Linked DNA regions of Homo sapiens: regions 1 and 2 are each linked to region 3. The links come from fine-mapping of genetic effects on gene expression. A gene starts in region 3. Each other region holds a variant in brackets. All regions are shown on one strand. Distances are between the middles of the regions. Region 1 holds the start of INSM1 (INSM transcriptional repressor 1). Region 2 overlaps CFAP61 (cilia and flagella associated protein 61). Region 3 holds the start of CFAP61 (cilia and flagella associated protein 61).

The links.
Region 1: its variant is fine-mapped to the expression of CFAP61 in prefrontal cortex (CommonMind, PIP 0.95).
Region 2: its variant is fine-mapped to the expression of CFAP61 in nasal epithelium (TOPMed, PIP 0.99).

Annotation. Positions count from the first base shown.
Region 1 is chr20:20,364,523-20,372,781 of GRCh38, reverse strand. INSM1 (INSM transcriptional repressor 1) reads right to left here and starts at 4,678. Exons shown (of 1, transcript NM_002196.3): 1 at 1,833-4,678. The coding sequence starts at 4,514. The coding sequence ends at 2,982. RefSeq lists an enhancer at 4,815-5,585. The variant G/A (reference allele first, on the strand shown) is at 4,464.
Region 2 is chr20:20,160,821-20,169,079 of GRCh38, reverse strand. It overlaps CFAP61 (cilia and flagella associated protein 61), which reads right to left. Exons shown (of 27, transcript NM_015585.4): 11 at 4,852-5,030; 12 at 2,644-2,683. Among named protein-coding and RNA genes, the nearest start is that of CFAP61-AS1, 100 kb to the left of the region's middle. RefSeq lists a silencer at 3,516-3,681. The variant C/T (reference allele first, on the strand shown) is at 4,952.
Region 3 is chr20:20,048,694-20,056,715 of GRCh38, reverse strand. CFAP61 (cilia and flagella associated protein 61) reads right to left here and starts at 4,184. Exons shown (of 27, transcript NM_015585.4): 1 at 4,125-4,184; 2 at 1-98. The coding sequence starts at 62. It overlaps CRNKL1 (crooked neck pre-mRNA splicing factor 1), which reads left to right and starts at 4,250. Exons shown (of 14, transcript NM_001278628.2): 1 at 4,250-4,424; 2 at 6,094-6,246; 3 at 7,285-7,376. The coding sequence starts at 4,374. RefSeq lists a silencer at 3,776-3,825 and enhancers at 3,916-4,215, 4,226-4,395.

The DNA of each region.
Region 1 (8,259 bases), 320 kb before region 3:
CGTGATGTTCTCGAATGGGAACCTTGTGAACGTATTATCCAGGGAGGCAAGCAAAAGGGGAGAGAGCCTGATTCCCTTCCTATATTCTGCTAACTCATATTGTGTTACCGTGATAAAAATTGACCAAGTTTTTCTATTTCTACGCTGTTTCATTGCCTTCAACTCCATTTACTATACAGTTTCATTTAATATCTCACATAGATGTTTCGGGTTCCATTTATTCCATTGAAATAAATTTATACAGGGGATGAAGGAACATGTTTGTGAACAACCAAATTATATTTACCCTCATGAAGGTGGATCTTAGATGAATTCATGTTTTTGTGATTACAGACGAGAACCACAGTGAGCCCAACATAGTTACAAGCTACCATTCCTGCAGACGAGTCTGGACTCCCCATGTGCGGCCAATCTTCCAGTTTTTAAGGAAACTTTATTGCCACAGAACGTGCATACACTGACCCTCAGTTTGGGGTATCTTTTAATGTTTGGTGTAACTCAGAGAGAATATTTTCAATGCTCCCATTCTCCAGTATTACTGTTGCAGGAGGGGAGAAGCAGCAGCCATCAACCCACACATTTGAGTTTTTCTTTGTTTCGTTTAAAGTTTTTAGGATGTTATAAATGCTGCTCTGTCCCTGTGCTTTCCTATTGTACCAGCCCTGAGCTTTTTGTTCTTTTATTTTCCAAACTGGTAAAATATGTAGTCATCAGTGATAAAAAGCTCCATGCAATTTGTCCTGGAGGCAACTTACCTGTAGAGGTTTCTCCTTCATTGTTATTCGAAGGCTGTTTCCAGACCCTCACAAAGGGAGGAATATTCCACATTCCTGCTAGCTGAGCCTGCTAGCTAAACCCCGTCCCACAGAAAACTTGAGGCTCACAATCTGAAAATGATCTCTTTCCTCAGTTTGTCCTTCCAAGTTCCTCATGGACTGCCCTTCCCAGCCTCATTCCAGCTCTTCTTTGGAGATGCAAATCCCTTTACTGTGCAGATTTCTAAAATCTCTTTGGCAGGCAAATGTTAGCTTTAGCGGACCTCAGGAAAAAAAAAAAGGCAGCAAAAACACACAAAAGGAAGGGAACACACACATGCACAATTGTGAGATTTAGCACAGCTCCTTCATGAGATGTTTCCAAGACAGAGGAAAACAACCCAAAATATTCACTGGTGAGAGTCAGAATTGTTCTTGAAAGAGCTGAGTGACACATAATGGAAAACATTGTAATTACCTGTTATTAAATTTAATACCCCAAACAGATGGTGTTCCATTTTCCCCCCAAACAGACTGCTCACCTGATTGGAAAATTATTTCTAAGCCCTTGCCCCCAGTTGCTTAACTTCCCATTGCATCCAAATGTGAATCGGGTTGCTGCCCGTGCTTTGCAAATCTGACGGTAAAGTCATTTCTCCTTTCTTGTCGTGAACAAAAACTACCCACTTTATTTATCTGAGGAATTACTATCACCCTGAGCCCCAAATTTTTGGGAATGAAGGACTTGCTAAATGAAAGTGCAGTGCAAAGAACAGCTTCTTAGGGACACTGATCTAGATTTCTCTGAAAAGATGCCCAGGGCCTTCATTCTAACCCGCCTCCTGGCACATTACTAAGGACCCCAACAAGGCTTGTTTCAGCCAGCCGCTACCAAGGCTATACCCTCAGGCTGCCAGAAGGGCAGAGTTCCGCAGCTGAGGTTCAGCTCTGAAAACCCACCATCCTGGTGGTTCCCTTTTTCCTAATAAAAAATAAAGTTACATTTTAAGAAACCATCAGAAGCTCTATTTTAAATTCGTCCTGAAAGCATGTGATGCAGAAATCAGGCCACCACACTTTGACTTTGAAAATATTTTATTTGAATAGTAAATAGTTATACAGTTGAAACAGTTCTATTGAAGCTTTCTATAAATAGCTAACAATTAAGAAAATAATGTATGTAGAAAAGAGATTGCATTTAAAAGTAAGAGCTGTCGGTTGTACAAGGGCCCTGGGGACCCTCGAAGCAGAATAAATGATAGGTTGTCTGTAATTCACTCAGATAGGTATAAAAGTTAAAACTTTAAGCAGATCCCTTTAGAAAAAGGCTCTCTTCTAAAACGCACAGTGGAATGTCAAGAGTGGCAGGGTGGGGAGGGGGCAGCGCGCCAAAAAAATCTGCAATCAAATAATATCATAATCTTCATAATTAATATAAATAAATAAAGAATAAATAACAATTACTCATAAATCAACATATACATTTAGAGGGAACTGATAGTCCTACCTCAACAAAGATGATCAAACCAAAAAGTCTTACGTGAAACACTGAGGCAGTTACTACAGCATCTTCGGAACACTCCCTTCCCTCCCCCCACAAAACAATCCCAGACAACAGTTCAAGGCATTTGTGGCTATACTAAAGAAAACTCTTTTTTAAGCAATTTGATTTGTTCACATACAAAAAGGTAAAGCCAGACTCCAGCAGTTCACAAGCCATAATAAAGCTAATCGTGTGGGAAGTTCAATTTACAGCCTGTGAAATATAAAGGCATTTATTCCTCAAGATTCACCCAAAACAACCCGTACGCTACATACATAGAGAGCAGAGATTGGTAGGCGAGGCGAGACCAGACCGCATTTCTAGACCATGAACACAGCGAATACTAGCAAGAAAAAAAGCTTCTCCCCGCCAAGGGGAGGCTTCCAACCACGAGACAAACGCGTACAGCTTTTCTCCCTTGTACAGAAAGAGACTGACTCCTGTTGCGCCATGGGGGAGGCGGAGGGACACAACGTAAAAGTGGGGGTTCCAAAAGGAGTCAAAAGGAGAGTATGGGGTTACCGTCACGCCACACCGAGAGAAGCGGAGACGACACTTTCACCCGGTGGGGGCGGGGGCGAGGCTCCCCCAGCGCGGACTCGGGTTCGGGGAGTGCAGGGCGCACTCTCTTTGTGGGTCTCCAAGCGAAGGCACAGTTCGGGGGCCGGGGTGGAGGGCGCGCTCTAGCAGGCCGGGCGCACGGGCACCTGCAGGAGGATCACCTGTCTGTTTTCGGATGGGTGGCACTTGTTGATGTGCCGCGTAAGGCCGGGCGAGCTGTAGAAGGTGGCCGGGCAGTACTTGCAGGGGAACACCTGGGCGGCGTGCAGCAGGCGCAGGTGGCGCTCCTGAGCGCCCTTGCTGGCGAACGACTCTCCGCACACTGGGCACAGGTGGCACTCGGCGGACGCACTCAGGCCCAGCACGCCGGCCCCCTCGCCGTCGCCGGCCGCCTCCTGGGGCGCCTTCTCGTCGGGCCCGGGGTACAAGGCCAGTAGGTCCTCGGCCGGGGGCGCTAGCGGCGCGCCCTTGGCCTGCAGCGCCTGGTGGTGCGCCAGCAGGTGCTTGCGTAGGTAGGCCTGGCGGCGGAACTTCTTGGCGCAGTGATGGCACTCGTAGAGCCCGTCCTCGGAGCCCGACTCGGACACGCCGCCGGGGCTCGGCGTGTCCCGGTCGCTGCCGCCGCCGGGTGCCTCCCGCGCCTCAGCCCTGGCTGCTGCTTCTGGCTCCGGCGCGCGGGCGGCGGCGGGCGCGGGCCGCGGTTTGTGCCAGCGGCGGTGCGAGGCCAGGTTGGCCGGGCAGCTGAAGACCTTGGCGCACTCGGGACAGCGGTACTCCACACGCACGATGCGCGAGCATTTGTGCTGCGCCAGCGCGAACGGGTCGGCGTACTCCTCCTTGCACAGCTGGCAGATGAACTCGCCCAGCGGCCGCGCCGCGCCCCCCGCGCGGCCCCGCGGCGCCTCCACCGGGCCCTCCTTGATCTTGAGCCCCAGCACGGGCGACGTGGTCACCTCGTCCTCGAAGTGCAGCTTGCGGATGGCCTTGGGCTTCTTGGCGCCCGGGGCCTTGACTGCCTTGGCGGGCGGCTCCGCGGCGGTAGGGGGCGGGGGCCGCTTTCCCGGGGGCCGCAGGGCGGCGGCAGGGGGCAGTGGGGGGCCGGGGCCCGGGCCGCGGGCCGCCTCGGCGCCAGCCGAGAACGCCGTGCCCATCTTGAGCTCGGCGGGCGCGAAGAGCAGCGGGTCGCCGCCGCAGGTGCCGCCTCCGCCAGCTCCGCTCGCGCCGCCGCCGCCGCCCCCTCCGAGCAGCGCGGCGGGCGTGGGGAAGGACTCGGCCGAGACCGGCGAGCCCAGGTTGAAGCTGCGTTCGAAGTACTTGTGCTTCTCGTGCTCGCGGCTCACGGGCCGCGTGGGACTGTAGAGCGGCGCGGGGTGCGCAGCCTCGGGGTTGCCGAAGTGCGCGGCCCGCGGGCCCTGCGGGGGTGGCTGCGGCCCAGGCGCGCAGGCAAGCGCGGCGGCGAGCGCTGCATGGGCGCGCTCCGCGGGCGGCGGCGGCGGCAGCGGCCCGGGGACCGGGCTCGGCGCCGGGGGCTCGGCGCGGGCGCCCCCGCAGCTGGGCGAGAGCAGCAGTGCGCGGTCGCCGTCCTCGCCGCCGCGGACCCGGTA[G/A]GAAACGGGCGTGGACTTCTTGCTGCGCTTCACCAGGAAGCCGCGGGGCATGTTGGCGCGGCCCGAGGGCACGGCACTGGCTCGGTCCCCCCTCCGCGCTCGGCCCCGGCGGCCCTCAGTGCCCCCGGCCCATTGCCCGGGCGCGGCGGCTGCGGGACTCGCGTGGCGCCGGCGACGGCTCGGCCCAGCTCTGCGCCCTGCACGCGCGTCCCTGTCCCCGGGCCCGGCAGCCGCTCCCTTTTAACGGGGGGAGGGGGCCATTGTTCTCGCCTCCCGCTTCCCCTGGAGCCAATCAGCGCGTCCGCAGCTCCTCAGCCTGGCAGGGTGGGAGGGCGATGGGGCGGCCAAAAGGGGGCCGGGACTCGGGGGTCGCCCGGTAGGTGCGGCAGATGTACCTGAGGGCGCGGGGCCCCCGCGCGCGCCCCTGGTCGCCCCGCCCGGCGCCGCCGCCCCGCCCGGTCCAGGCACACGCCCGGCCCCGCCTCCCTTCACGGTCTGCTGCTTCTCTATGGGGAGGCGCACGTGCCTGGGCTTTGTGTCTCTCCTCCGGGGGGCGCGGAGCCGCCAAATGGGCCCGTCCATCAGCGCGACAATGCACGCCCCCCTCCCGCGCGGGGATTACCCGCGGGTCGCTAGCAAAATAGCAACAAAGGAGAAGAATGGCCCCAAATATGTCAGGAGGGTTCAATCCGCGAGCCGGAGCCGAGGGGGAAGTTGTGCGCGCTGATTGGGTGGGGGCGGGGGCGCGCCGGGGCGGTGCGGGGGAGATCGTTGCGGAGGCGCAGTGGCTCCGCGTGGTGTTTGGGAAATAAACAAGAATCCGAGAGAGCAGCAGGGTCCGGACGGCCTCCGCCCGGACCTTGGACGGATGGGCCGCTGGACCCAAGAGGCCAAGCAAAAGGGTTCCCCGGGGTTCCAAGTGTGGACAGGGGGCCCGGCCTTCTGGCAGTGGCCGAGGGCGATGTTTGTGCTCGCAGCCTCCGCGCGCCCACGGGGCTAGAGAAGGTTTCTTTCGAGTTTGAGAAGGAATTGGCACGGCCTTCTCAGTCTCCCGAAAGCGCGGGATTGGAGCGCGGGCGGGCTGGGCTGGGTTCCCAGAGGAACGTGAATTTCTGAACTTTTGGGTTCTTGGAGGCTTGGGAATGGCATCTTTGGCGGGGCCCGACCCAGGCCGCCCGGAGCTTCCGCGTGGTCCAAGGCTCGGTTAATCCGGGTCGAGTTGGCCGAAGCCCGAAACGCGCGGTCGGCCTCGTGCGCCCCAGTGAAGTTGGCTTTCTCCTCCCCGCGCGGCCTCATGCATTTTCATTCCGAGCGGGCATTTTGTTTGCCGGTTGACATCAGATGCTAAATCAAGGGCTCCAATCAAGGCGCTGCGAAATAAAGGGGCTGCCTGTCTGGGCGCAGCCCCCACGGAGCCGTGCCCCCTTCACCTTTGTGAAGGAAATTAACCTCCTGCTATTGAGCTCCGGTCGCGGCCAATCTGGACGCAAAAGAGACGCGTGCTGGACGGGGGGAGGGGGGGCAATCTGTACTCTGAGGCAGGCTGAGGCCTCCGAGAGGACAAGCCGCCTCCCCTGTGCCACCAGGAAGAGACAACAGCGAAGATTCCCCCCGCCCCCACCCCCACCCCCACCTCCGCTGCCGTTCCGTTTGGACCCAGACTGGGCCGCCTGCCTCCATCCTCTGTCCAGCCCAGCCCCGAGGAAACACAAAAGGCAGAATCTTCGGGGGACAGGGCAGAGAACCCCACGAGTGCGTAGTGGCCCTGATCGTCCAACACTGGGGAACAAATAGCCAAGCCACATAAAATGTCATATGCTGTGAGGAAAATGTCACTTTATTGAAAGAGAAGGAAACATTTTTCTGCAAAGCTTTGTATACCAGACAGATTTTGCTGAGTTTTACTTACGCTTAATTCCACTGAAGGTATTTAATTGTTTTGGATTTTCCCTCTGAAAATACCCTGGCGTAGAAATTAAACATGTAAAAATAGAGTCCACATGAGTCATAAGTTGTGATGGGGACAGTTGTTAGGCTTAATTAATTAAGGGGTTAATCAGGTTGGTTAATCAAGGGAAAGATATTTGATAATTTTATGTTTGTAATATTTTAACTCACACACTGAAAAGGGAAGAATGCATATAGTGAAATATATTTTGAAAAGTCTCACCCTAGTTTTAAAAATGCTGTGGTGAGTGCTAGTCTCCCCAAAAGTTAGAAATCTTAAAATGAGTTTATCTAAAATTTATAAACATATTTCTATCTAAAAGTAACTGATGTTATTTCCTTGCTCTTTTGAGCTCTGATTAATAGTGCTGATGAAATTAGAAGTGGGAAAAGGATTCCGAGACAGCTTTGGCCAATTTTATTTTCTAATCACGAATCCCATCTGGATTGTAGAATAGCATAGGGCGGGGGCTCGGCCTGCCCCATTCGGTCTTGCATATGTAACACTCCTTCCATTCAACAGATAACAGAGAGTTAGTCACCTTGTGAATCCTTTAAAAATAACAACACCCATAATTGTAAATAAGCCGTGGGGATGGGAAACCGGCACCTCTACCAACAAAAAAAACAAAACAACTCCTGCGTGAGTGAATTCAAACAGGGCTCTGAATTTAGCCAAGGGAATCTATTAAACGCTACTGAGATACTGAGATTCAATGAATCCGTTTCTTTTTCTTTATTTGTGGCTTCCAGTCTTGCTAGCGTAAATGAAATCTGCTTTCAGACGGGTACAGTCAAAATAAATGGAAACTTGAAAGGTACTAGTATTGGAAACTAATTTCACCACCCGGGGCTGGAAGGAGTTAGGCTGCGCACGCGCGCACGCACACACCAGCGACCTCCAAGCAGGTGTAGCCCAGCCCGGGCCGTGGATCGCAGCCGCCTTCTGCGTGATTTTCTCAGAACCTGTGCACCCGCATGCATGGGGACATCGGGTCGAGATATTTGTCTTCGCCTGGGAAGAGCAAAGCGCCATCACAGTGCGCCCCCGACGCCGGCCTTGGCGCACGCGATTCGGAGAATGGGCCGCGTGAAGTTAAGTTGGGGGAAACAGCGCGGATTTGCCCCCCTCCAGGGGGGCTTCGCGAAAGTCAGTGAACATAAGGATCCAAGGCAGAGCACCCAAGGGGCCTTCCCCGGCTTCAGGTGACTCCTCCCCTTCCTTCGGGGTCCTGGCCAGCGCTTTGGAAAAATCCCGGGCCTCTTCACTTTCCCTTGCGGACCCCGCGGTGGGTTCTTCCTCCGACGACTGCGGAGCCCGAGGCCCCAGGCCCTCCAATTTCTCCTATCCTGGTGTGCGGGGATGCCGTCGGGGAGCGCGCCGGGGTTCACTCTGACCCTCACCACGGCTGGAAATCAAAGTCAAGGCAACAGGGAGTTTGTAGAAAGCGCGAAGCTTGGAAATAAGAGCAGAAGCGGGGAACTTCTGCGGAGGAGTTGGCTCCTTGGGGTGTCTAGGAGAACAGGAGGCCCTGGCCTCACGGGAGGAGCCGGGCGGGCCCGCATTCTCACCCCGCAGAGGGTATCGCGTTTGGAGACGTCGGCGTTGGGGGTGAGGTGTCAGCGCCCCTCATCACCACTCTGCTGCAGACTTCTCTTCTGGCTTCACAGAAGCCCCCACTCCCGGCCCTCAGTCCCCCGAGCCACAACCGGCAGGAACCGTGCGTTACCGCTGCAGTGCCCGCCGCCCGGAGGGACCAGCGCCTCCCTGCGCCGGGTGCGCCCGACCCGAGCCGGTGAGAGGCTTTGTATTTGCAGGAATGAGGGGTTGTTGTGTCAGTCCCAGGGG
Region 2 (8,259 bases), 110 kb before region 3:
CAATGGCAGTCATTCAGCATAACTCTTCTGTGGAAGTAGTTTTTAAACCAAGACAATTCATACAGGTAAGTTCACTTGTGTCACCAAGTCAATGAGGTAGCATGGTGTCCTAGCAAAGGCCCCTTGCTTACTAAGTGACCTTACACCAGTGGTCCCTTCCTCTTGCGAGATGGGAGGATGATACTTCAGGCATTTTTTGGCTCTAAAATTCTGTGATTATCCATAAACCAATGTGTACGTATTTTATCATGACGTGATCCCAGTTGGGTGAACAGATCCATGAGCATGATTAAACCCAGGCAGTGGGTTTAGTTAGCAGACATAAGAGGTCTTGCATGTCCTGAGGGCTGCCATTCATTCTATTCTAGGCCTGCCCTGTCAGTACAGTAGACAATGAAATGTGGCTAGTATTGGCGGAGGAACTAAATTTTAAATTTTATTTCATTTAAATTCATTTAAATTAAAAAAATGGATACTTAATTCCATTACTGGAAAAGTTTTATGTGTGCTTGGATTATGTGAATCTACGTATCCAACTGTAAATTTTATAACATACAAATACAGATGAACTATTTCTGATGAAAATTTAGTACTTGTATTGTGATGTACTATAAATGTGAAATATATATTAGATTTCAAAGACTCAGTACGAGAAAAAGATTGTAAATAGCTCATTAATAAGTTTTCATATTGATTATATGTTGAAATGATTAAATTTGCCCAGGCACAGTTCTCACTTCTGTAATCCCAGTACTTTGGGAGGCCGAGATGGGAGGATCACTTGAGCCCAGGAGTTCGAGCCCAGCCTGGGCAAGATGACAAGACCCCATTTCTACAATTTTTTTTTTAATTAGCTGGGCATGGTGGCATGTCCCAGCTATTTGGGAGGCTGAGGCAGGAAGATCCCTTGGGCCAAGGAGTTTGAGGCAGCAGTGAGCTATGATTGTGACATTGCATGCAACAAAGTGAGACCCTATCTCTTTAAAAAAAGGATTGGGCATATTAAGTTAAATAAAAGATATTATCATATAAACTTCATCTGTTCCTTTTTCTTTTTTTTCCTTGTGGCTCTTGGAACATTCAGAATTACCAATGTGGCTCACACTCCATGTCTGGACAGTGCTGCTCTAGGCTATCTGAGCTTCACGCAGCTGCCTGATCCTCTGCCAGGTCCCTGCAGAAGCAGCCTGCTCTTCCCGAAGCTAATTTGTCCCTTTGGGATCTCGCCTCCTCTTGAACCCTGTGAAGGCATTACTTGTGCTAATCCAAAACCCTGGGGACATTTGTGCAACTCAAAGGAGTGAACCATTGTCTGACCTTACCTTCCTTCTTTTTAGCAAATTAGTAGGACTCCTTTTGGGGAACCTGAGAGTCAAGTTGCTGAAATACTCAAGTTGAAAATAAGGACTGGGTGCCAAGTCTGGGTGGGCTTCCTCTGGGAGGGAGAGACTAACTATAATGAGTTGCTTCATCTTGGATTTGAAGGATTAAGGATGAAGCAACCAAGGTTATTTTTTTTCCTGTCGTCCATGTTCCGAAGTCAAATAGAATTGAAATGTAAACAGCTCTTTTACCTTTTTAAAGCCAGCATTACTTTTATAATGTTAAATATTTACGTTTACATGGACGTTAAAGTAGAAAATAATTAAAATTAGTGAAATTTATTTGAGGAGTTTTTGAGGGAAACCGACTTTGTAAATCCTATGTTCAGGGTAATCTACATTGTTTGGAAAGTGCCTTAATAAGTAATTTTTAAAAATTATGATGGAGAACATATTGCCTTATTATAAAGCTTCATTATAATAACAAATGAGGAAATAAAACCTAACATCACATAGTTGTAAGACAAAATAATTAAACTATACTTGTTTTTGCCTCATTAGAAACAGTATCCAGGAAAAGTAAAGCAATAGATACTTTTCTTGAAATCAGTCAACTGGAGAAGTACAGTTGTTGACTTTACTTAATTAACAGGCCTGTCTTTATAAAAATGCATTTTGTCCCTCAAAACTTCCTTCCTCATTTTCTTTCCTTCAATAAAGAAGTGTAAGAGTTTGGTTAGATCTTCATCCCTAGAAAATAATGAGACAAGAATGTAGGCAGAAGCCCGGGACACCCTGGCATGGAGAATCTTATTTGTACTTGGATATTAGCCTGCAGGCCCATTCATCAATGTGGGTTGAGCCCCCTCTACCAGCCAGGCATGAAGTCAGGCCTGAGGAACTAGTAGGGAAAGAAATGCCAACCTCAAAATCAACAAGTCCCTACTTTGCTACCCTCAGAAAAGCAATATGATGGTTTCAGAATACTTGGAGCCAACATAATCTATAAAATAACAGTGTCATTCACTTTAATTTCCAACATTTTCATGTATTACTATGAATGATTTGATTCTGATAAAACACTGGTAAAGCTATGTGTAACAGAAATTTTGCATTTAAAGAGAACTGCTAAAATAGCATGACTTAAAAATTCTTGAAAATGACAATATTTTGTATTTTTATGAGCTCATGACATGCCATTTGACCTTATTCTCCGAACACAAACCTCAACATTCACAGCATAATAAATTTATGGCATTTTACTTTTCTATAAGTTCTCTAAGCTTACAAAATCAGTTCTCAAAATTCAGCATGTACTTACAGAAAAAAGACTGAAAACAAAATTCATAAAATCCAGCGACCTGTAAACAAGACAGTAAGCACTGTCAGTGCCCTGCAAGCAAATGCAACATCAGTGGACGTTTACAGAGATTTACAGCTCCCTCCCCTCGGGCAGCGATTAGCCAACCACTAGTCAGAATGTGTGTCTAGGTGAACACTAATGGGGTGCATAAGTCGCAAGCTTCGTATGTCAGTAATAAAGTATTCTGCAGAACTGAAGGCACTTTCACATCAATTAACAATCTCTGTGCATTTGAAAAGCCAACACAAAATTGGTCATTCTGTGCCTCCGATCCTTCCCTTCTGTTTTGGAAGAGTTAAGAGGAGAGGTGGGAAATATTATAGGTTGCTTCTGATCTGTTTCCCTTTTATCTGTTGAAGATTTTCTGACTAGCTGTAGATGTACATTCATAGGCAAACCACACTGGGTCATCAAATTCCTGTTTCAAAATTCAAAAAGTATACTCTAAGCACAATCATATTTAAATGTACAGATAAAAGAAATATAAAGCAACAAATATAGAAAGGCTTTACAAGGTTTTATATGTCTACAACATAATTAGAATAAAAAGAATTTCTTTTCAATGTCCCAGATCTCCATAGAAGCTAAAAACTCGAGATGAAAAAAGTTAAAGTACAACAGGGGATGCTGGGAGACTGGGAACATGTTTAAACAGATCCTCTGAAGAGGAACTGTCCAGCTATTCTTGCTCATCTAAAAGACACCCTAGAGCCTTCCACTCCATCAAAATGGGCCAATTATTTCCTCTTCGAGATGGTTCTGTGAACAGATGAGGGGTGGGTGCTAAGGAGATGTGGAATCCAGGCACTGAGGGCAGCGTCCAGTGTCCAGACCACAGGAGAACAGCAAGCACTGAACATGTGGGTGTTCTGGAGGGGCAGGGTGGGTGGCTGTGAGGTCTGGTGGGCGCCGGGGCTTTAGACAAAGCCCAGCACCATGCATGCCTCCTCTTTGCTGTAGCCCTGGATTGCTGTTGGGTGTCAACTTATCCCCTGCTCAGATATTCCATGTAGCTGAGACTCCAGCTGCAGATTTGGCATGGAGCATGAGCTAAGGGATGGAGCCCATCTTCTCCATCTCCTTGTGGCATGGGCTTGTCACAGCCGTTGGCTCAGGAATGAACACACAGTCCTGTCAGGCCTCATGAGACTTTGGCTGGAAAAAGCTGGGCCCATCCCGGCAAGTCCTTCTCACTGGATTCTGATGCAGACCTGAGACCTGAGAATGTCAGTGGTCTTAGGCCCAGGATGGGGCACTCCTCTGAGAAGGGGTCCAACAGCAGGGAAGTAGGGTGATATGGTTTGGCTGTGTCCCCACCCAAATCTCATCTTGAATTGTAGCTCCCATAATTCCCACGTGTTGTGGGAGGGACCCTGTGGGAGATAACTGAATCATGGGGGTGGTTCCCCCATACTGTTCTTGTGGTATTGAATAAGTCTCATGAAATCTCATGGTTTTATAAGGGGAAACCCCTTTCACTTGGCTCTCATTGTCTCTTTGCCTGCCGCCATGTAAGACATGGCTTTCATCTTCCCCTATGATCGTGAGGCCTCCCCAGCCACGTGGAACTGTGAGTTCATTAAACCTCTTTTTCTTTATAAATCACCCAGTCTTGAGTATGTCTTTATCACCAGCATGAAAACAGACTAACACACAGGGTGAAGAGGTAGAGAGAGAAACTTGGTCCTTGATTTGGTAATCTAAATAAATCCTAGATCAAGCCATATTTAAAACAGTCTCACCACCAGAGTTATCCTTAGTTATGTGAGGCAATTATTCAATTTTTTTTTCAAAGCCAGTTTGGTTGGATTTCCTGTTACTTGCAACCAAAGACTCTAGACAACCAGTAACCCAAATTCAAATTATCCAAGAGATGCAAACTTTACAGAATGGGAGCAGCATGTGGTTATGTAAGTGATAATTTTCCAGATTCCCAATTGTTACATAGGTAGGCCAGATTTCTAGCCCACTTCTGTAGGCCTTGTTAAAATTTGATGGACTAGAATCTCTGGATGGGGCTTAGGAATTTGTGTTTTAAAAAATTCCCCAGGAGATTAGGATGTGGGCCAGGTTTGGAAATTACTGGCTCTGTAAAGTTAAAATGTTGGGCCACCAATGCCAGAAAAGATTCTCACTGTGACAGCCAGCCAGAAGGTCAGTACTTGCCTTGCTTCATATTTCTCATCAATACAAAACAGCTGAATACAAAAAGCAGCTGAGGCTCCCCTGTAGATGGGGCGGAAGTGGACGGGCTCTTCAGGCAGTA[C/T]GAGCGATGCCAAGCTCCTACTGCTGACATGGTGATACTGTGCATATCCAGTGGAGATGTCACTGAGTTTTTCTATGTCCTAGAGCAAGGAGACAGGAGGAGCCAATGAGAATCCTGTCAATGCCCTGTAATTTAGTGGGCTGGTGGCTGCATTATCTCTACATGACACCGTTCTGAGGACAGGTGTGACTGTCACCCGAAACAACTCATCCTGGGCCAGGCCTGGTTTTAAGGAGAGGTTCTTAATGAGATACTCAAAATTCATAAAATGTTTTTAAAAACTAGTTCTCCAATGAGAACACATGGACACAGGGAGGGGAACAACACACACTGGGGCCTGTCAGGGGGGTCGGGGGGAAAGGGAGGGAGAGCATTAAGACAAACACCTAATGCAGGCAGGGCTTAAAACCTAGATGACGGGTTGATAGGTGCCGCAAACCACCATGGCACATGTATACCTAGGTAACAAACCTGCACGTTCTGCACACATATCCCAGAACGTAAAATAAAATTTAAAAAATAATAATAATAAAGAAAAAAAAAACTAGTTCTCACATGAAGGTCTCACACAAGACAAATAGTTTCAGTTGGCCTTTGACATAGGGTCCATATTTTAACTGCATCCCAGGGTAGAGATTAGAGCGTGATAGTATTATATACATATTATAATAACTCCAGAAGCAAAATCCCTCTGTCCCCAAAGCTGTTTTCATTGTGATACAAGAATTTTTGAATCTTGGGACTGCTCAGGTGGTCCTGGGAGTAACTATCGTGGGGAGGTGGAGCCCAGGAAGGTCCAGTGGACCACAGCCACCTGGAAAGTCAGGGCTGAGGCTGTTCTGTCTTGGTTTAGGTGCACCTAAAAAGGTGTCATAACTCAGAAGATGATTCCCTTTGAGATCCCTCATGGAGTTCTTTTAAATCAAAGTAATACATGCATATGGAAAAATTTAAAATAATATTAGCACCAAACATTTATTAAGAAAATCAGCAGTTCTCTGTCCTTCCAAGTCTCTACCCCCATTGAACAGAACTTTCAACGTTTTCATTTATTTGGGTATATATTTACCTCTATATTTCTGAACAATATGCTTATGGTGCTGTTTCTAAATTCATTAGTTTTTAGAATTTCCTATTCAATATTGATGCAGTGGCTAGATTAATCCCTCTCATACTACCCTCTTCCCCACATCTTATCCCCCAGGAAAATTACATCACAATTCAGGGTTAAATCCGTAAGTATTTACACTAATATGAATGTGTAAGTTCTGTTGTTGCTGAGCAAAGTAGTGTAATATGACAATGTTTTCATCTGTGTGCTTAGTTTTTATTCACTTGGTTTGCTAAGTTTTTCACTTCCTTTATCAGATTTGCCAAGTGTTGGTCACTATTATTTTCCAAATGATCAGGCGTTTGAGATAATATATGAGCTTCCTTTTTTCTCCCCTCTAATCTGGACTTGCAGCTCTGCCGTCCTGCCTGTATTGCAGCTCCTATTTTGTAAGTTCCAGGTCTTTTCTTTGTCTTTTTTGTTCATCATTTAGGCCCTCATATCGTTAGAGCACATTTTTAGCTTCCTAAAAGCAACATGCTTGAGAGGCAAAACTCCACAGACACTGGCTAACTGGGGCACTTCATGGGGTGATCAGGCAGAGATCTGGCATTATTACTGGGTGGCCACCTTCAGTGACATCATCTGAAGGCATTTTCCTTGGGCCTGTCAGTTTTTTGGGACTTAAGTTCTCCAATATTCTGTATTGAGGACTGTGGTCCCCAAAGATGTTACAGGTACTAGTCCCTGCAACCTGTAAATATGTTATCTTTCAGGGCACAGGGATTTCGCAGATGTCATCACATGAAGGGTTCTATGATGAGGAGATGCTCCTAGATGATCCGGGTGGGCCCAGAGGAATCATAGGGATCTGCTAAGAGGGAGGCAGCAGGTCTGAGTCAGAGGGAGGAAGATGCTGCGCTGCCAGCTCTGAAGATGGAGGAAGGGGACACAGGGCATGGAATGCAAGTGGCTTCTAGAAGCTGGCAAAGGCAAGGGAACAGATTCTCCCCTAGAGTCTCCAGAAGGAACACGCCCCTGTCTACACCTGAAGCTCAGCACACTCAAACCCATTTTGGAATGCTAACCTCCAGAACTGCACAATAATAAATTTGTGTTGTTATAAGCCACCAAGTTTGGGGTAATGTGTAACAGCAGCAATAGAAACTTAATACAAGGCCTGGCTCCTGGCATTGAGAGGGCGTGGCTGGAGGAGGGGCTGTGGATTCCTCTGTTCGAAGTGGAGAATTCCACTTACTTGTCTGTTCTCTATTCCTCACCGTTACAACGCCCATGCAGCACAGGCTAAATCTGAATTAGCAGCAGCCTCTGTTCAATTTCTCTAGAGAATAGTCATTTTATCCTCTCACTTGGGGTGTGGCTGACAACCTAACTGGAGTCTGCAGGGATCCAGTGTTCCAGTCACTCCACATCAGACTGCCCAGCTTTTCAGCCCAATTCCTCACCCCACCTTCTGCAAACCTCCAGTCTTCAGCCTTGTGCAGAATTCACACACTTTTCACCAGTCTCTCCTCCCATAAAGATGCCTGAGTTTCACCTTCCTCAGCTGTGCTAAGCCAATGTAAACTCTTCCATTGATTTTTTTATTCTCAATATTTTTAAAGTGCTTATCTTCCAATATCTCCTCTCCATCTCACCTTTGTGGATTTGTGCCCTTTTTATCCCTTTACTGTCATTTCAGTGTTTTTCTCCGGTAGGGAGAGGAGATAAAAATAGGAGATCAATCCACCTTGTTGACTCAGGTGTCTTCTGGGGTTCCAACCATGTTTGATGCAGTGGTGGGGGCAGGCATCCTGTCCCTCCAACCACATCCTTGCTTGGGTTCATAACGGAACGGCTACCCTCTTAGGAATATTAGAGAGAAAACTGCTGTCCTCTTCTACACCCTGACTTTCCTCCCTAGGGCACAGGGAGTGACCAACTGGTCAGTGAGTCTCCTAGTGTGGGTTGCCCCAGAAACACACCCTGAATTAAGTGTCTGAGAGTCAGTAGTTTACTTGGGGAGCAAAGCCAGGAAATTCTGTAAGAGGAGTGGCATGCGAGGTGAGGAAGGGGAGGCTGCCAGCATGGGGTGTTTCAAGATGTGGGTGACTATGGTGAATCAACCCCACCTGGATCTCCGAAAGCCTAGAGAACACAGTGCAGAGTGGTCCCACCTAAGAGGTGAAGGAGCTGGCAAATTGATTCTCCAATCCCTTCAGTCACTGGCTGATGGCTGCTTCCCCAAACAGCCTGC
Region 3 (8,022 bases):
GATTCTGTTCTTCGGCAATGAACAACTTCTACCTTTCCTCTTGGAGAAGTGAGTACTGACATTTTTTATCCTGTCCCCAAAAGAGAGAAAAAAGTCCACTATTAATCTGATATGATAAGCCAGTTTGGTTATAATACACACAAAACTGAACACTAATTCAATTTCCATGTGGTCAGAGTGAACATGGTGTGAGAATACTGGTGTGACACGTTTTCCCCTGGGTGTAGTCTGTGACAACTGTCACTGCAAACCAGCTGACGTTCCTCCATAGGAGAATGAAGTTTCTGAGAACTGGCCTGTTTAGAAGTTTCTGCAACTATATTCTTTGTTTCCAACAAAGCTGCTTTAAAAAATTCTAACAATAGAATTGGAAAAACATTGAAAGGAATTATTTACGGATTCAGGGTCCTCTTATATTTAATCGGCCACGATGGCATGTGGTGAAGAGTTACTGGGGAAATACTGACAGCTGCTGCCTATGTTCTTAATAGAGTTCTCCAAACTGGAGCCCTGAAGGTCAGCAGTCTTGAGACATATTTTGAGACCAAAAAAGTTCTGTGGTTAAGTGTAGGAAATGCTCGCAATAGGCTTCCTGAAGGGCCACCAGGCCCATTAACATCTTTGAGAGGTTCCATAATAAAGCAACTTGTTTTCTTTGTATAACCCAGCCTTTCCGACACTCTTTGGGAAGAGAATCTCTAATGACGGCAACAGTGGAGAACCTAACGTTCCAGAAGGACACTTTGGGAAATGCTGTTGACAAAAACAGTAGGTCACAAAATGATTTCAATTTCTCTCTCATTGTCTCAATTTCTGTAAGTCTCTCTTCTCTCTTTCCCTCCCTTCTTTCCTTCATAGGGAAAGCCATTTTATTATATACTAGCCAGTGAGCTCAAAACAGGGAAAACAATGAAGGAGAAATTAATAATGTCTAGACTCCTATCGAAGCTAACCATAAATATTGTCATTCCTTGTTCTGGTTTTAAATTGAAAGCAAAATTGGAATGAGACATCTTGTTTGTGAAACATATCATAAACTAATGCTACAAGTATATAAAAATTCTGAATAAAATAAGGAAGTATAATTAATTAGATAACTGACTTTGGTAAAAAGAAAACAAGAAAAGAAGAAAGAAAGCGAGCGAGGGAAATTCTCCAACCAGGTGGCAATGATGTGAGCCGATCTGACACAGGTTTTGGGGATAGAATGGACCTCACTCCAAACAGAGAATTAAAAATTAAACCATGCATCTACCTGGGACTTTGGATGGGCCCCTCGGTAAGTGAGGGGGCTAGAAAAATTAAACTCACCAGCCCAAGAAAGTGACAAGCTTTCTCTACACAAAGCTCTAGGTAGAAAATAAAGCAAAAATACTGCTGAGAAGTCCAAATTCTAGACTAAAGTGGGTATGGCATTCTAGTCCACACAATCTGTGTATTATGGGAGTCACCAAGAACTTTAGATGATAGACTCTGAAACAGACTACAAACTAAGTATGTTTATAATAAAGAAATATAGAAAGAGAAACAAAAGTCATGAGAAGAGAACAGGTCATTATTTAAAAAAGAACAGAAACTTAAAAAATGAAATACGTGGTTATTAAAATTTAAACTAAGAGGATGGGTTAAAAACAGAAGAATAAAGAAAATAAACTGGAAGATACTTATGAACAAATTATCTAGAAAGAAGCACATAGAAACAGAAAATACAGAATTCAGTAAAGACACATGTAAGACAGAATGAAAAACATCTGTCTTATGGGAATTCCAAAAGGAATAAATGAAACATTTGAAAATAATGGCTAATTACTTTTAGCATGGATGAAAGACATGAACCTTCAGTTCAGAGCAAAAAATACAAATAAACTCCAAATATATAGTAAAACTACAAAACCCTAAAGACAAACAGAAAACTTTAAAGGAACCTGACAAAAGACAGACTGTCTATAAAAAATAATTAGACTGACAGAATATTTCTCATGAGCAACATTAGAAGCCAGTAGCACGGGGGTTAGCAAACTTCTGTAAAAGGCCAGAGAATAAATACATTAAGCTTTATGAGCCACATGTTGTCTACACAACTAGTCAACTCTGCCATTGTAGCACAGTAACAACCAGAGACAATATCGGCACAAATGAGCATGAATGTATTCCCACAAAATTTTACTTACATACACTGAAAGTTGACTTATGTATAATTTTCATGTGCCATGTAATTTTTAAAAAATGTTTAAAATGTAAACTACATATAAAGTTTAATGTAAAATGTGTGTGTGTATATGTGTATGTATGTGTGTGTGTATATATATATATATATATCCCTAGCTCATTCACAGTCCATACAAAATAGTCAATGGGCTGAATTTAGTCTACGGCCCATAGTTTTCTAACTACTAGAATAGTGTTTTAAAAATATAAAAGGAAAAAATAACCATTAACCTAGACTGATAAACCTAAACAATCACTTTAAAATGAAGATAAAATAAAGACAATTTCATACAAAGACTGAAAGAATTCAAAGAATCTTGTAGAAAGAACTAGGAGATGGTATATTCTGAGAAGAATAAAATCAGAAAGAAGTGGAATACAAGATTAAATGCTGGGAAATAAGAAGGTAAACATGAAGGTATATCTACAAAAGCATTGATGGCAAAAAGTAAGAAGGATAATACATTTTTCCTAAAAAAAAAAAAAAAAAAAAACAAACAAAAAAAACACACACAGAGATGAACTGAATTGCCAGACAACAGAAATGTAAGAGAGAAGGATGGTGATCAGAAGCAAAGTATTCTAGCATGTTTGTACTTTTGAGCAAAGGCAACAGATGATTAAACCAATGATTCATTTGGTAAATCAATTGTTTACAGTAACACATTTAAGGAAAATCACTTCAAAGAAACATCTTTTTAATATTTATTTATTTTGTTAGGTGGCTTTATGAAAGTGATATAAAATCTTCTCTATTTAAATTTTGAAAAGTGAGATAAAATATCTAAATAATATGGTTAATAAAGAGTTATGGCAAATACATTGATGTTGGTTATAACTGACTGCAGTTCTAGAAATCTGCATAAATCTTTTGTTGAAAGTAATATCTGCATTGGTAGACGTGATATTACTACATACATAAATATATATTTTCCCCAAACACCAAAAGAGCTTTGCAACTGTGGAAATTATCCTAACAAATGAGCTGCCAAGTCATGTCATTATACATTTGTCCAACCTCATAGAATGTACACCAAGAGTGAACCCTAATATAAACTATGAACTTTGGGTGATAATGATGTGTCAATGTAGGTTCAAGATTGTAACAAATGTACTGCTCTGGTGGAGGATATTTTTAAGAGTTGGAGGCTGTTAGAGGAGGGAAGAGGTACAATAATTGATAGCAGGAAGCTGTGGAGGGAGGAAATCTCTGTGTCTTCCACTTAATTTTGTTGTGAACCTAAAACTTCTCTAAAAATGTCTATTAAAAAAAATTCTCTTAACCTTTGCTTTTCAGTTTTTGAGGGCAGGTTAAGTATTATAACAGCTAACATCTACTGAGCATTTGTCTTTAATCCTAGTGAAACAGATGTTATTAGCCTTGTTTTATAGTTGAGGACATTGAGGCTAAGAAAATTTAACTAGAGTAATTAAGGCACACACAGAATTTAAACATGTTTCTTATCACAAGACTGAGTTGTTTTCCAGTTACTCTATTTATATTTTTTCCTAATATCTGGCTTCAAAGTACCTTCTGTTATTTTTAATTCCAAGCCTTAGAGTTAATTATTTGGGCACCTTAGAATTATTTGGGCACAACTGTCCCGAAACCAGAAACGAGGGGGCGTGGACCCAGAGACTACTAGAATGCAATGCTCGAGGCATTGCAGCCTAAAAGGGCGGCAGCTCGCCCCGTCGCATGCTGGGAATGGTAGTTTCCTCGCTCTCCCTTCTTCCCCCGCCCTCGAGCATCCAGATTGGAGCTCCGTTCTTACTCCCTTGCAGGGCGCCACGGCTCGACAGAGCCACTCGTCCTCGCCTGGTCATCCCAGTTCCGGAGGCTGACCTGGGGATGCGCCCTGGACGCCCTGCACCGCAGTCCTTGCGTCGCTGCTAGTCAGCACGGCGTTACCCACCTCATCCGCAGCTCCAGGACGCCGCACTCCACGCGCTGCCGCAAGGAGGACGCGCAGCCTGGTCACCATGGAAACGGTGCCGCCTCCGTCACGGCTCAAGCGAGAGGTCAAAGGTCAGTCCTGCAAGTTCCGCTTCCGGTTCCGAGATCCTGTTTGTTTTCTGAAAGCTTTGTGGTTTCGGTGAGCTCTCAGAGCCGATTTCTAGCGTCCGTGCCGGGGACAGGTGTCCAGAGGTCGACTGCTGCAGACATGGCGGCCTCCACCGCGGCCGGGAAGCAGCGGATTCCCAAAGTGGCCAAGGTAGGCGATCGCGAGGGGCCTTGTAGGAGGTGGCCTAGGAAAGGGGCATCCCTCAGCCCTGAGGGTGCCCGGGTTGGGAGAGAGTGTTCCCGCCGGGGAGAAGGCTCACCCTGAGAGATGGAGAGGAAGGGCAGCTGGTGGTGGGGCGCGGGCTCTTGTCATCGCGGAGCACGACCCGCGTTGGCGTGGCCTTCGTTCTGGGGTGGTTTTGCTGGGGAGTGGAGTGGGGTGGTTCGGTGAAGATTTACTGAGCCAGGCACTGCACTGGGCGCTGGGAAGCTACGCTCGTACGCTGGCCACAAGCAGTACTCAAAACACGAGTTTCTGTATAAAGACGACCTTGCTAGATGTTACCGAGAGGCAAAGTAGAATATGCCATGGGCGTGAATAAGGGGGTCGTATGAAGGGGTCCTGAAAGTAAATTTTGCTGAGGAAATGACCTTTAAGCTGAGACTTGAAGGCTGAATAGGAGTTAGCCCAGCTGACAGCGGAGGGCGAGAGTAGACGGTAGGAGTAGTATAGTATCATAAGTTAATTAAACAGTAGACTTACTATCTGGTATTTCCTTTGATAGCTAATACTTACCAAGTGCTTAATATGTGGCAGACTTTGAAGCCTTTACAGATACCCTCCCTCCAGTCTTTCTTGAGCCCGGATGACTCTCTTGAACTGGACCTTTACATAACTATTTGTCTGACTCGCAGGAGTAATGCATATAGAGCAAGTAACACTGTGTCTGGCACTTAGTGCTTATTAAATATGAGCTATCACCATTATCATCATTACTCCACATGTGGCATTAAGTAACATTTTTTATAATTCAGCTACATAAACTTTTATTGGGCATCACTGGTCCAATGGAAATATAATGCACACCACATATGAAATTTTAAATTTTCTCATATCTACATTAAAAAGTAAAAACAAAGCAAAAAAGTGAAATTAATTTTGATAATATATATTTTATTTGAGCTAATGTATCCAAAATATTATCATTTCAACATGTAATCGGTATAAAAAATGTAATGAGGTAGTTTATTCTTTTTTATACTTCATCTTCAAAACCAATGTGTATTTTACACTTACAGTCCACCTCAATTTGTACTCACCACATGTGACTCATAGCTACTGTGTTGGACAGCACAGCTCTAAGCTACGTTAGACTGTAAGCTTCTAAGACCTCAAGAAGCTTACAGTCTAATGATGAGAACTTACTGAAATTGCCTTTGACTTGAAGTGCCATGTAAAACCAAACCCAGTTATACACCGGGGCATTAAATAAGTTGAAGAATTCTGTAAATGCAGGTTGTAATGCTGTTAATAAGATGTGCTACACATTTTGATAAAACAAAACCTCTGGTCAGAATTTTACCTAGACGGCCTCAAAGTTTATTATTATACTCATCTAAAAGGGAAAACTTGCTATTATTTTTGCCACCTTTTTCTCTTGAGACTTTTACCTATGGCTTTGCAGTAGATACTATGAATAAGAGAGAAAACGGTATTTTTTTTTTCTTTTCAGTCTCATGGAGGAATGGGAACATGTCATACAAAAAGGGCATCTTGTGATAATACTAACAAAGTTCATATCCTAAAAAATGTATGTTTGTTTCTTAAGCCTTGTGTGAAGAGCAACTACTAAAAATAGAAATGTCTTCTTTCTTAAAAGGTGAAAAACAAAGCCCCGGCTGAGGTACAGATAACTGCTGAACAACTCTTAAGAGAGGCTAAAGAAAGAGAACTTGAGCTTCTTCCACCTCCACCTCAACAGAAGATCACAGATGAAGAAGAATTAAATGATTATAAACTAAGGAAAAGGAAGGTCAGTCAGTGTGGTATCTTTCAGTCCACTAATTGTTAAGACTGTATCGGTCAGTTTGAAAAGCTCCTCATTGGTTGGATTCTGTAGGGCAAGATGAGGTTAAGTGTTTCCAGACGCATGAATAATGTACTTCTGGTTACCAGATAACAGCATTTTTCTGAACTATATAAAATATGCCATGAGTTGTCTGGTTAAAGTGTAAAGAAATTGAATCTGCATAATTTTTGATGCTGAATCAAAGTGAGCGGAAGTTTAGCAGATGGAACAACTGACAACAAGAAGGAGGGTATGCTTAGTAAGGCTGCACTGTGTACTTCTGTCTATACCACCTTCTGTGTTAAGAATTGAGATCTGGCTGGGCACAGTGGCTCGCGCCTGTAATCCCAACACTTTGGGAGGCCGAGGCGGGCAGATCACCTGAGGTCAGGAGTTTGAGACCAGCCTAGCCAACATGGTGAAACCCCATCTCTACTAAAATACAAAAATTAGCCAGGCGTGGTGGCAGGTGCCTGTAATCCCAGCTATTCGGGAGGCTGAGACATGAGAATCACAGCAACTCGGGAGGCAGAGGCTGCAGTGAGCCGAGATCGTGCCACTGCACTCCAGCCTGGGCGACAGAGCAAGACTTTGTCTCAAAAAAAAAAAAAGAAAGAAAGAAAGAAAGGAAAAGGAATTGAGGTCTGCAAAAGGACCATGAGAAGACTTTGGGATCTGATTTGACCTCTTCACTCTAGAATGTGGGACTGTTTTAAAGCACTAATGCTGTTATATATGAAATTCTGAGAATTACCAGAGGACTTAAAGGTAATAGTCAAAAACATTTTTTATTAGGGACAAGCATAGACCATTTTAAAGTATCAGTTAGTTGACTGTAACCTTCTGTAGTGGGTTTCTTATTCCTCAAGGATTCCAGGATGTAATTTCTCTTAAATATGAACAAAATGAATAACCATTTTAGTACAAGACTTAAAATAGACCAAGGGTGCTGTCATTTTTAGTCATTTGTCTTTTGACTTGACCCTTTTTGCCTTCTTCCAGACTTTTGAAGATAATATAAGAAAAAACAGGACTGTGATTAGTAACTGGATAAAATACGCACAATGGGAAGAAAGCCTAAAGGAGATTCAAAGGTAAAATTACTGAGAGTGTAGTTTTGTATATAATGATTCATAGATTAACAGATACCAAAAAGAAAAGAAGAAAAAGTTAAAGCACAGGTAAAAGATTGTGCCTCGGGTAGAAATTTTCAACTTTGGTTCCATGGAACCCTAGGGTTCCCTTGAGGGCCTCAGGAGTACTGGGGTAGAATAGTCCTGGGGAGGGTGGCAGAAGAGGCTTTAGAGATAGATCTTGTCAGTTGTAGCTAAAGAAGCACAATTTCATTTGCTTTGTATATATTGAGATTTTTACAAATTTCAGCTAAACAATGGCCAAAAAAAATAAAACCAATGGCCAAAAAAAATAAAAATTGCAATCTGGCCCTTCCTGTGGTCTAGCTTTCTGCATTCTCCCCGCATACCTCCTTCCCCCACTGTGCCTGTGTATGTGCCACTCCCTGAATATATCATGTCTCCTTATCGTGAGGCTTGACTGTTCTCCTTGCCTGGAATGAGCACCCCCTCCTCACCAAACTTAGTTTCCTGGTAAATCGGAACGTTCCTCAAGTTCTCATTTCTACAATTACCTACTACTTAGCCTTTTCCACCAAACATTTTCATTTCTTCCTCTCTGTTTCCCGTGCAGATCTTGACTATAACATAAATCACATTGCATTAT